2 separate regions of the Homo sapiens genome follow, and region 2 is linked to region 1. The links come from fine-mapping of genetic effects on gene expression. Tissue or cell type: whole blood. Region 1 holds a variant in brackets; the other region holds the start of a gene. All regions are shown on one strand. Distances are from middle to middle.

Region 1 (5,000 bases):
CACCTTTGTAATCACATTTCTATTCTCTTTGCTCCCTCCCCCAATCCCCAGGCAACCACGAATCTTTTATTTACTGTATCTTATCTTGCATTTATAGAATTTTAAATAAACAGAATCATATAGTGTGTATTGATTTTAAATGTCTTCTTTCACTAGCATAATTGAGATTCATTCATGTAGCTGCATTCTTTTTATTGTTGAATAGTATTCCATTGTATGGATATATCACAGTTTACTTATCTATTCACTTGTTGATGGCTATTTGGGTAATTACAAGTTTTTGGCTTTGACATGTAAAACTGTTATGAACATTATTTTACAACCTTTGCATAGAATATACCCTCATTTCTTTTGAGTAAATACCTAGGCATGGGATAACTGAATCATGTGGCAGGTTAATGTATGTTTTCTAAAGAAACTATCGAAATATGTTCCAAAGTTGTTGTATCATTTATACTCCCATTTGCAGTTCTAGTTGCTCTACATTCTCGTCAACACATAATATAAAAAGTTCTTTTAATTTTAGGCTTTCTAGTAGGTATGTATTGCTATCTCATTGTGGTTTTAATTTGCATTTCCCTAATGACTAATGATCTTTTCATTTGCCTACTGTATGTCTTTTTTGAAGTTTCTAGTAAAATATTTCCCCTATTTTTATTGGGTTTTTTTTTTCTTATTAACTTTAGAAAGTTCTTCATATGTTCTGGATATAAGTCTTTTATTAAATGTGTGATTTGAAAGTATATTCTCCTAGTTAATGGCTTGTCTTTTCATTCTTTTAATAATGTTTTTGAACAGCAGAAGTTTTAAATTTTGATAAAGTCCAATTTATCAATTGGTTCTTTATGGGTAGTGCTTTTGGTATGTTCTTTTGTTTTGTTTTGTTTTTGAGACAGGGTCTGGCTCTGTTGCCCAGGATGGAGTGCAGTGGTGTGACCTTGGCTCATTGCAACCATTGCCTCTGAAGCTCAAGCCAACCTCCCACATCAGACTCCTGAATAACTGGGACTACAGGCACTTAACACCATGCCCAACTAATTAAAAATTTTTTTGTAGAGATGGGGTCTCGCTATGTTGCCCAGGCTGGCCTCAAACTGCTGAGCTCAAGGGATCCACCTGCCTTGGCCTCCCAAAGTGCTAGGATTACAGGCATGAGCCACAGCACCCAGCCTGGTGTGTGTGTGTGTGTGTGTGTGTGTTAAAAACTCATTATCTTGCCCAGGCTGGTCTTGAACTCCTGGGCTCAAGCAATCCTCCCAGCCTTCCAGTAGCTGGTGTTTTATCAAATCAAACCCAACAATATATAAAAAGATAATACATAAATGACCAATTGGGTTTATGGAAGGAATGCATAAATGGTTTAATATTTGAAAATCAATCAATGTATTTCACCATATTAACAAGTCAAAAAATCCCATATGATCATGTCAATGAATTCAGAAAAAGTAGCTGGGATTAGAGGCACATGCCACTGGGCCTGGCTGCTTTTGGTATATTAAGAGAAATCTTTACCTAACCCAAGGTTACAAAGATTTTCTGTTACATTTTCTTCTAGAAGTTTTACAGTTTTTTTAGGTTTTACATTTAGGTCGAAAATATATCTTCAGTTAATTTTTGTATATGGTGTGATGTATGGATCAAAGCTTAGTTTTTGCATATAGATATCCAGTTGTTTCAGTACCATTTATTGAAAAGATTACGCTTTCTCCATTGAATTGCATTTGCACCTTTGTCAAAAAATAAACTAAGCACATATTTGAGAGACTGTTTCTGGACTCTTCATTCTGTTTGATTGATATGGTGATATAGTTCTTTATTTCTATTCCAATAAAACGTAGTCTTCATGACCATAACCTTTTTTTTTTTTTTTTGAGACAGAGTCTCACTTTGTCGCCCAGGCTGGAGTGCAGTGGCACAATCTTGGCTCACTGCAACCTCTGCCTCCTGGGTTCAAGCAATCCTCGTGCCTCAGCCTCCTGTGTACCTGGGATTACAGGCACCTGTCACCATGCCTGGTTAATTTTTGTATTTTTAGTAGACACGGGGTTTTGACATGTTGGGCAGGCTGGTCTCAAACT[C/T]CTGACCTCAGGTGATCTGCCAGCATTGGCCTCCCAAAGTGCTGGGATTACAGGCATGAGCCATCATGCCCCCAGGCCTGACGACTATAACTTTATAAAAAGCTTTGAAGTTAGATAGTGACATTTTCTAATTTGTTTTTATTATTCAAAGTTGTTTTGGTTATGTTAGGTCCTTTGCATTTCCATACAAATTTTAGAGTTAACTTGTCAATTTCTACAAAAAAGCCTGTTGGAATTTTCACTGGGATTGCATTAAATCTATATATGAATTATTTGGAGAGCACTGAATTCATAGCCATATTGTCTTCTGATTTATAAACACAGTATATCTCTCCATTTATTTAGAACTTCAATTTGTCTTAGCAATGACTTGTAGTTTTTGTGTATAAGTCTTGCACATCTCCTGTCAGATATCTTTACATTTAGTATTTTTGATGCTATTATAAATAGTATTATTTATTAATTTCTACTTCCATTGCTAATATAAAGAAATAAACCTTTTTTTTTTTTTCAAGAGGGAGTCTTGCTCTGTCACCCAGGCTGGAGTTGCAGCCTGAACTCCTGGTCTCAAGCAATCCTCCCACCTCAGCCTTCTGAGTAGCTAGGACTACAGGCACATGCCAGGCATGGAGTTTGGTGATTTAAAAAATTTAAATTTAAATTTAAAAAATTTTGGGGGCCAGGCACAGTGGCTCACACCTGTAATCCCAGCACTTTGGGAGGCCCAGGTAGATGAATCACTTGAGTCCAGGAGTTTGAGACCAGTCTAGGCAATGTAGTGAAACCTTGTCTCTACAAAAACAAAAACAAAAAAAAAATTAGCCACTCAGGAGGCTGAGGCAGGAGGATCATTTGAGCCTGGGAAGTAGAGGTTGCAGTGAGCTGAGACTGCACCACCAACTCCAGCCTGGGTGACAAGTGAGACCCTCTTCTCTCTCTCTCTCTCTATATATATGTGTGTGTATATATATATATATATATGTGTATATATATATGTGTATATATATGTGTATATATATGTGTATATATATATGTGTATATATATATAAAATTTTTGGAGACAAAATTATATATAAAAATGATATATATAATTTATTATATAAATTATTATATAAAATTGTTAAAATTATTATATAAAATTATATATATATAATTTTTGGAGACAAAGTCTCACTATGTTGCTCAGGTTCGTCTTGAACTCCAGGGCTCAAGTGATCCTCCCACCTCAGTCTCCTGAATAGCTGAAATTATAAGCGCAAGCCACCATACCTGGCTTTTGTCTTTTTGATAATACTAATTCTAACAGGTGTGAGGTGACATTTCATTTGATTTGCATTTCTCCGATGATTTCATATACTTATTGGCCATCTGTATGCCTTCTTTTGGGAAATGTCTATTCAGGTCCTTTGCTCATTTTAAAGTAGGGTTATTTATTTATTTTTTAAATTTATTCTCTCTTTCTTTTTTTTTTTTTGTTATTCAGTTGTATGAGTTCCTTATATATTTTAAATGTTAACCTCTTATCAGATACATAGTTTGAAAATATTTTCTCCCATTCCTTAGACTGCCTTTTTTCTCTGTTGTTTCCTTTGCTGTGCAGAAGCTTTTTAGTTTGATGCAGTCTCATTTGTCTATTTTTGCTTCTGTTGCTTGTGCTTTTTGTGTCACATCAAAAAAAAAATCATTTCCCAGGCCAATATCAAGAAAATGTTCCCCTATGTTTTCTTCTAGGAGTTTTATGGTTTTAGCTTTTAAGCTTAGATCTGTAATCCTTTTTGAGTTGATTTTTGTATATAGTGTGAGACATGGATCCAATTTCATCCTTCTGCATTTGTATATCCAGTTTTTCCAACACTATCAAGGAGATGATCCTTTTCCAATTGTGTGTTATTGGCATCCTTGTTGAAGATCAGTTGACTATAGATGCATGGATTTGTTTCTGGGAGCTCTATTCTGTCCCTTTGCTCTATATATTGTTTTTATGCAAGTACCATACTGTTTTCATTACTATAATGTGTGTGTGTGTGTATATGTGTGTGTGTGTGTGTGTGTGTGTGTGTGTGTGTGTGTGTATCTATGTTGCCCAGGCTAGAGTGCAGTGGCTATTCACAGGTGCAATCATAGCACACTGCAGCCTCAAACTCCTAGGCTGAAGCATCCTCCTGCCTCAGACTCCACTCCCAGGTAGCTGGGACTACCCTGTATCTGGCTATAATACATTTCAAAATTGGGAAGTGTGATTAATCCAGCTTTGTTCTTGCTCAAGATTGCTTTGGACATTCTAGGTCTTTTGTCATCCCATGTGAATTTTAGGATTCTATTGTCTATTTCTGTAAAGAATACCATTGGGATTTTGATAGGGATGGCGTTAAATCTGTAGATCACTTTGGGTAGTATGAACATTTTACCAATATTTTTTCAATCTATGGACATGCGATATCTTTTTCATTTATCTATAATGTTATTTAATTTCCTTCAATGTTTTATAATTTTAGTGTACAAGTCTTTTTGGCTAAGTTTATTCCTCAATATTTTATTCTTTTTGTTGCTAATGGGAATGGGATTGTTTCCTTAATTTTCTTTCTGACTACTTTGCTGTTTGTGTCTAGAAATGTGACTAGGGCTGGGCATGGTGGCTCATGCCTGTAATTCCAGTGCTTTCGGAGGCTGAGGCAGGAGGATTGCTTGAGGCCAGGAGTTTGAGACTAGCCTGGGCAACATAGCAAGACCCTGTCTTTACAAAAAGATAAAATTAGTGGGGCTGGTGGCATGTGCCTGTAGTCCCAGATTATCAGTAGGCTGAGGCAGGACGATTGCTTGAGTCCAGAAGTTTAAGACTACAGTGAGCTATGATAACATCACTGCACTGCAGCCTGGGTGACAGAGCAAGGCTCTGTCTCAAAATTTTTTTATGTGATTATT
Region 2 (5,000 bases), 140 kb before region 1:
TGGTCTTGCTAAGCATGTAACTAAAGAGCTCAAGTTCATTCTCAGAAACTGTGAACTCAAAGCTACAACTAAAAGATTTATTTCTAAAAGTTATTACACTTTCAACTTCCTGTTTTATTTAGACAGCTCATCATGACCATTTCAGGTAACAAAACCCAACTTCCTCTTTATAAAGTGATTAAAAAAACTTCAGCAGTTATGAGAATAGATGATATTACTAGCTTTTACATAAATATTTACAAGGAAACTAAGAGTCCATTATCACCAAATTTTCTAAAGGTTCACTGCCTTTAGAAAATGTAACAAAGATAAAAAACAATATTAAAATATACTTGGCAACAAAAAAAGTATGCTAGAAGAGGAAACTGGTCACAGATCTGCTATTAAAAAAAACAATACTGGCTGGGCTCGGTGGCTCACGCCTGTAATCCCAGCACTTTGGGAGGCCAAGGCGGGCAGATCATGAGGTCAGGAGTTCGAGACCAGCCTGGCCAACATAGTGAAACCCCGTCTCTACTAAAAATACAAAAAATTAGCCAGGCTTGGTGGCGGGCGCCTGTAATCCTAGCTACTCGAGAGGCTGAGGCAGGAGAATCGCTTGAACCAGAGAGGCAGAGGTTGCAGCGAGCGGAGATCGCACCACTGCACACCACCCCGGGTGACAGAGCGAGACTCCATCTCAAAAAAAAAAAAAAAAAACCATAACCCAAGACATTAATGTTATTAATTAAAACACTGCCAGTATCTAAAGGCATCTTAATTGGCATTTTAAAATATATATTTTCCCAAGTTTAATTAAAGGCATTCTAACCTGGTATCAAAGACAAAAATCCAACAACACTGGTCAATGTGTATCAGGTAGGCACAATAAACTTAAAAGTTTATTATTTAAATTATTTGTGAAATTTTGGCCGGCCGCGGTGGCTTACGCCTGTAATCCCAGCACTTTAAGTGGCGAAGACGGATGGATCGTTTGAGCCCAAGAGTTTGAGACCGGCCTGGGCAACAAGACGAAACCCACTCTCTACAAGAAATACAAAAATTAGCTGGACTTGGTGGCGGGTGCCTGTAATCCCAGCTACTCGGGAAGCTGAGGCAGGAGAATAATTTGAACCAGGGAGGCGGAAGTTGCAGTGAGCCGAGCGAGACTCCGTCTCAAAAAAAAAAAAAAATTGTTTAGTTGTATTGTAACAGGATTTTTGCTTAATTTTATTTGAATAGTAACTATTTGCCTTAGAACAATTTATTATAGATCGATTTCCAGCATAGGCTTATACATAAATGTTTTTGTCCTAAATCTTAAACATGTATGAAGATCAGTTTCCAAATAAGAGAAAATCTAACGCTGTTGTCAATGGCTTGTTAAACATTTCAAAATGGCATGCCATATCTACATATATCAAGTTATTCCGTACAGAGGACTTATGGATCATAACAGTCCCCTTCCCATCCCAACTTCTTATTGAAAAAAACACCCAGGTAGATTTACAGAGCACTCAAGGGGACACATTTTCTAATAGCCACAGTGGGAGACAAATGTCATAATTCTTGTCCAATAAGTTGCCTTGTGAGGTCATTCTAAGTTCTACGTGCCCTAAAACCATGTACTTACTGAAAAGCCTGACAAACTGTTATGAAACTGTGCAACTGTCAGAAGAAAAGTTATTCCACCTTAGAATGTGCTCTTGTATTTAAGACCCTTTTCAAGAAATGAGCATACAAAATGCACACTGACAAATTCAACTGATCAAAGACTCCACAGTGGAGCATCAAAGAAGGCAGGATGCTTTGTTCAGTCTTGAACGTGTTAACATAAGGTTTATTATGTGTTACAGAAAACCTTTCTGGAGGTTAAGAAAATCCATCAGCTATTCTAGATTTGTTAACAAGAAACAAAATTTTCAAAAATTATCGTTAAAAGGGATGTGTCTATAGGGAAAGACTGGTGTTCAAATTCTGAAGCAAATGCCCTGAGGCTCACAGATTTATTATAGCGAATCAGACAGGCGACAGTACAGGAGAAAAGTAGTGCATGTGTAGGGAGATGGACAACATTTGGGACCTCTCCTTGTCGAAGAGTCGTGACAGCAAAATCACTTCCTGAGGAAGGAGGAGCAAAAGGGAAGTTAAGAGGCCATCCTGACCAGGAAGTGACTCGCCCTAAACTAACCCCAATTATATCTACAAATGGGGGGATGGGGTGAGCCCCAACTGCTAAAGGCGGTAAAATAACTGCTTTTTGATATGTCGCAACATAACCACCACCCTCTCGCAAAATTACAGAAAAAAGTCCACAGTCACGATCCAATAAAGGAAACGTCTGTTCCCTTGCAGGGAGGCCCCTGGGCTGTGCCTCAGGCCTGAGAGAAAAGGAGAGTCGAGGAACGAGGAACTGGGGCCACCGTGAGGCAGAGGAAAGCCCCCTAAGAGGGAAGCGTCCCGACTGCGGAGAGCGTATGTCAGCATGGACCAAGAAGCTTCTTTTTCCTGGGGACACTGCTAGGCTCCCAACGCAGCCGGGCCGGGCCCCAGTTCCCTGTCGGGGGAGGAGGTAAGAGAGAGAGGCGGACCCCTTACCTTCTCCTCATCCGACACACGATCATCGAAGTCGGCCATCTTGGGCTGTTCTGGCCCAGCCCGGCTACGGGCGCGAGGCAGGCCGGGAAGAAAGCCGAGTGATGGAATCACCGCGGCGGCCGTCGGAAGGACCCGCCCGGAAACGCCGACCAAGAGGGCCCCATGTCAGTTATGCGCGGGAGTGACGTCTCCTAACGCCAGCGCCCGCGCCCGCGCCCCAGGAAGTAGGGTTTGCCTTAGGTGATTTGAAGTCTAATATCTTTCCCAATGAGTTACACTCATTTCCCATCCATCTAATGGGCGCTGGCAGCGTGTTTCGATTATTCTTGGCTTCTGGCCTCCATCCGACCAAATAGCTGTTGCTACTCCTACAAGTTTTTCTGGTGCCCGTTATCTCCACGACAGCCGAATCCAAAGCTTTAAGAGCTGCTCGGCAGCTGGAACGATCGGTGGCTTTTCCAACCCCGGGGGGGGGGCGGTGTGAAAGGTGACCCTCATTTCGTTTGGAAGCGGTAACACTTCGGGGTCACATCTCAGTCCAGTTCCTCCAGAATAGGCGCTGCTGTCCGCCCCTTCCCTGCCCCACGAAAGAACAGGTAGCCCCAATCTTGAGACACGCTCCTCCACCTTCGAAATCTTCTCGGTCCCGGTTCCCCAGGACTCAGCCTTCACAGAGGCCAACTTCAGGTCCGCCACTATCCCAGGATTCCCGACTCCCGGTTTCCTGTCCTTCTCCCCTCCCAGCTCCTGGCGCCTGCGATAGCGGCAAGATGGCGGACCGTGGCGGCGTGGGTGAAGCCGCAGCTGTTGGAGCGTCTCCTGCATCTGTCCCTGGCCTAAACCCGACGCTAGGCTGGAGGGAGCGACTGCGGGCCGGGCTGGCGGGGACTGGGGCCTCGTTGTGGTTCGTGGCGGGGCTGGGGCTGCTTTACGCCCTGAGGATCCCTTTGAGGCTGTGTGAGAATTTGGCAGCGGGTGAGAGGACCAGACCTCCTGGGGCAGGGCGGGGGGCCAGGAGAGATGTCGGGGGCAAGAGCCAAAGGGCAAGAGATTCTCGGTAGTCCTAGAGGGCCTCTGAGGAGTCGATGATGAGCGATCAAGTGAGTTCTTTTTCTTTTGGGCTGCAACCTTGCAGTTGATTGACAAGCCTGCTGCCGTTACCGGCTCCTCCGTAGAACTCTTAAGGTCCGCCCTCTCTCTTATGTCCTCGTTTTTCCATGGAAAAGCCACCTGACAAGCTATAAGCTTCAGGTATTAGGACAGAAGAGTGTCTCAGATTAGGATACGTAATTTATATTGGCTCCCCCACCTCTGGTAGGATCCCTTAAAAGTCACTACTTTGAGTCTCCCGCTGCCCAGCTGAAAGAACTCATATCCAGGCAACAAAGATGAGCACATCTGTAATTTAAAGATTTCAGAGAAAGAAAATGGCATGATTTTAATTGAGGATTCTCTTGTTTTAAAATAGTTCTGTTAAGAAATCGTTTTCGTGATAGTTTTGTCTGTTCTTTTAGGCTTATCTTGAGTAATAAAATAGTACAGGAAGTGAGAGCGCCACAAACAACAGTGGGTTTGCTAGTTCTTTCGACGTCTGTAGAACACTTGCTACGTATTCTGTGCTGACAATACGAACACATGTAAGAAGTGATGATCCTGATGGATTCTCATATACTGTACTATTCTTTAGCTGTAGACAGGATGAAGTGTTTAGGGCCCAGGTCCCCTTACCATGTGATTATATTTCACTCAAGATCTGAGCAGCAACCTCAGAACAAGATATAAGTATTTCCATTACATGATTCAGTATGGTGGTTGATTTTTCTGAAGCAAAAGGCAGCAAATGTCCCCTTTCCTGTTCAGAGATGACATGAAAGACTGTGAGTTAATGTTCGGAAATATTTTGGTTTTTTTGGAGGATAGGTATCAAGTTCAAATATAACTAGCACTCTAAAATAAGCTAAACTGAAGAGCTAATTTGGCATCTCTGTAACAGGTGAATGAAGTGCTTAACGGTGGTTTCTATGCACAGTGTTACTGATTGACTTGTCATTTATTTTTCTACGTTAACCATATGCAACATTTAGATGAGAATAGTTGATTACTATAGATTTTTCTTTTTTACGTTTCGTGTGTGTGTGTGTGTGTGTGTGTGTGTGTGTGTGTGTGAGAGAGAGAAAGACAGACAGAGTCTCCCTTTGTCACCCAGGCTGAAGTGTAGTGGCAAGATCACTGCAGCCTTGAACTCTTCTGCTTAAGCGATCCTCTGGCCTCAGCCTCCCAAGTAGCTGGGACTGCAGGCGTGCACCACCACGACTGGCTGAGTTTTAAATTTTGCGTAGAGACTGGGTCTATTTTATTTGCCCAGGCTGGTCTTGAACTTCTGGCTACCAGTGATCCTCCTGCCTTGGCCTCCCAAAACTCTG

Evidence for each region. PIP is the estimated chance that this variant, and not a neighbour inherited with it, causes the effect.
Region 2: CAPZA1 starts here. The variant in region 1 is fine-mapped to the expression of CAPZA1 in whole blood (TOPMed, PIP above 0.99).

The regions. Positions count from the first base shown.
Region 1 is chr1:112,482,332-112,487,331 of GRCh38, reverse strand. It overlaps a transcript of WNT2B not described here. Among named protein-coding and RNA genes, the nearest start is that of MIR4256, 23 kb to the right of the region's middle. The variant C/T (reference allele first, on the strand shown) is at 2,079.
Region 2 is chr1:112,617,461-112,622,460 of GRCh38, reverse strand. It overlaps CAPZA1 (capping actin protein of muscle Z-line subunit alpha 1), which reads right to left and starts at 2,629. Exons shown (of 10, transcript NM_006135.3): 1 at 2,578-2,629. The coding sequence starts at 2,616. ST7L (suppression of tumorigenicity 7 like) reads left to right here and starts at 3,320. Exons shown (of 15, transcript NM_017744.5): 1 at 3,320-3,552. The coding sequence starts at 3,348. RefSeq lists enhancers at 2,347-2,796, 1,949-3,148, 3,257-3,356.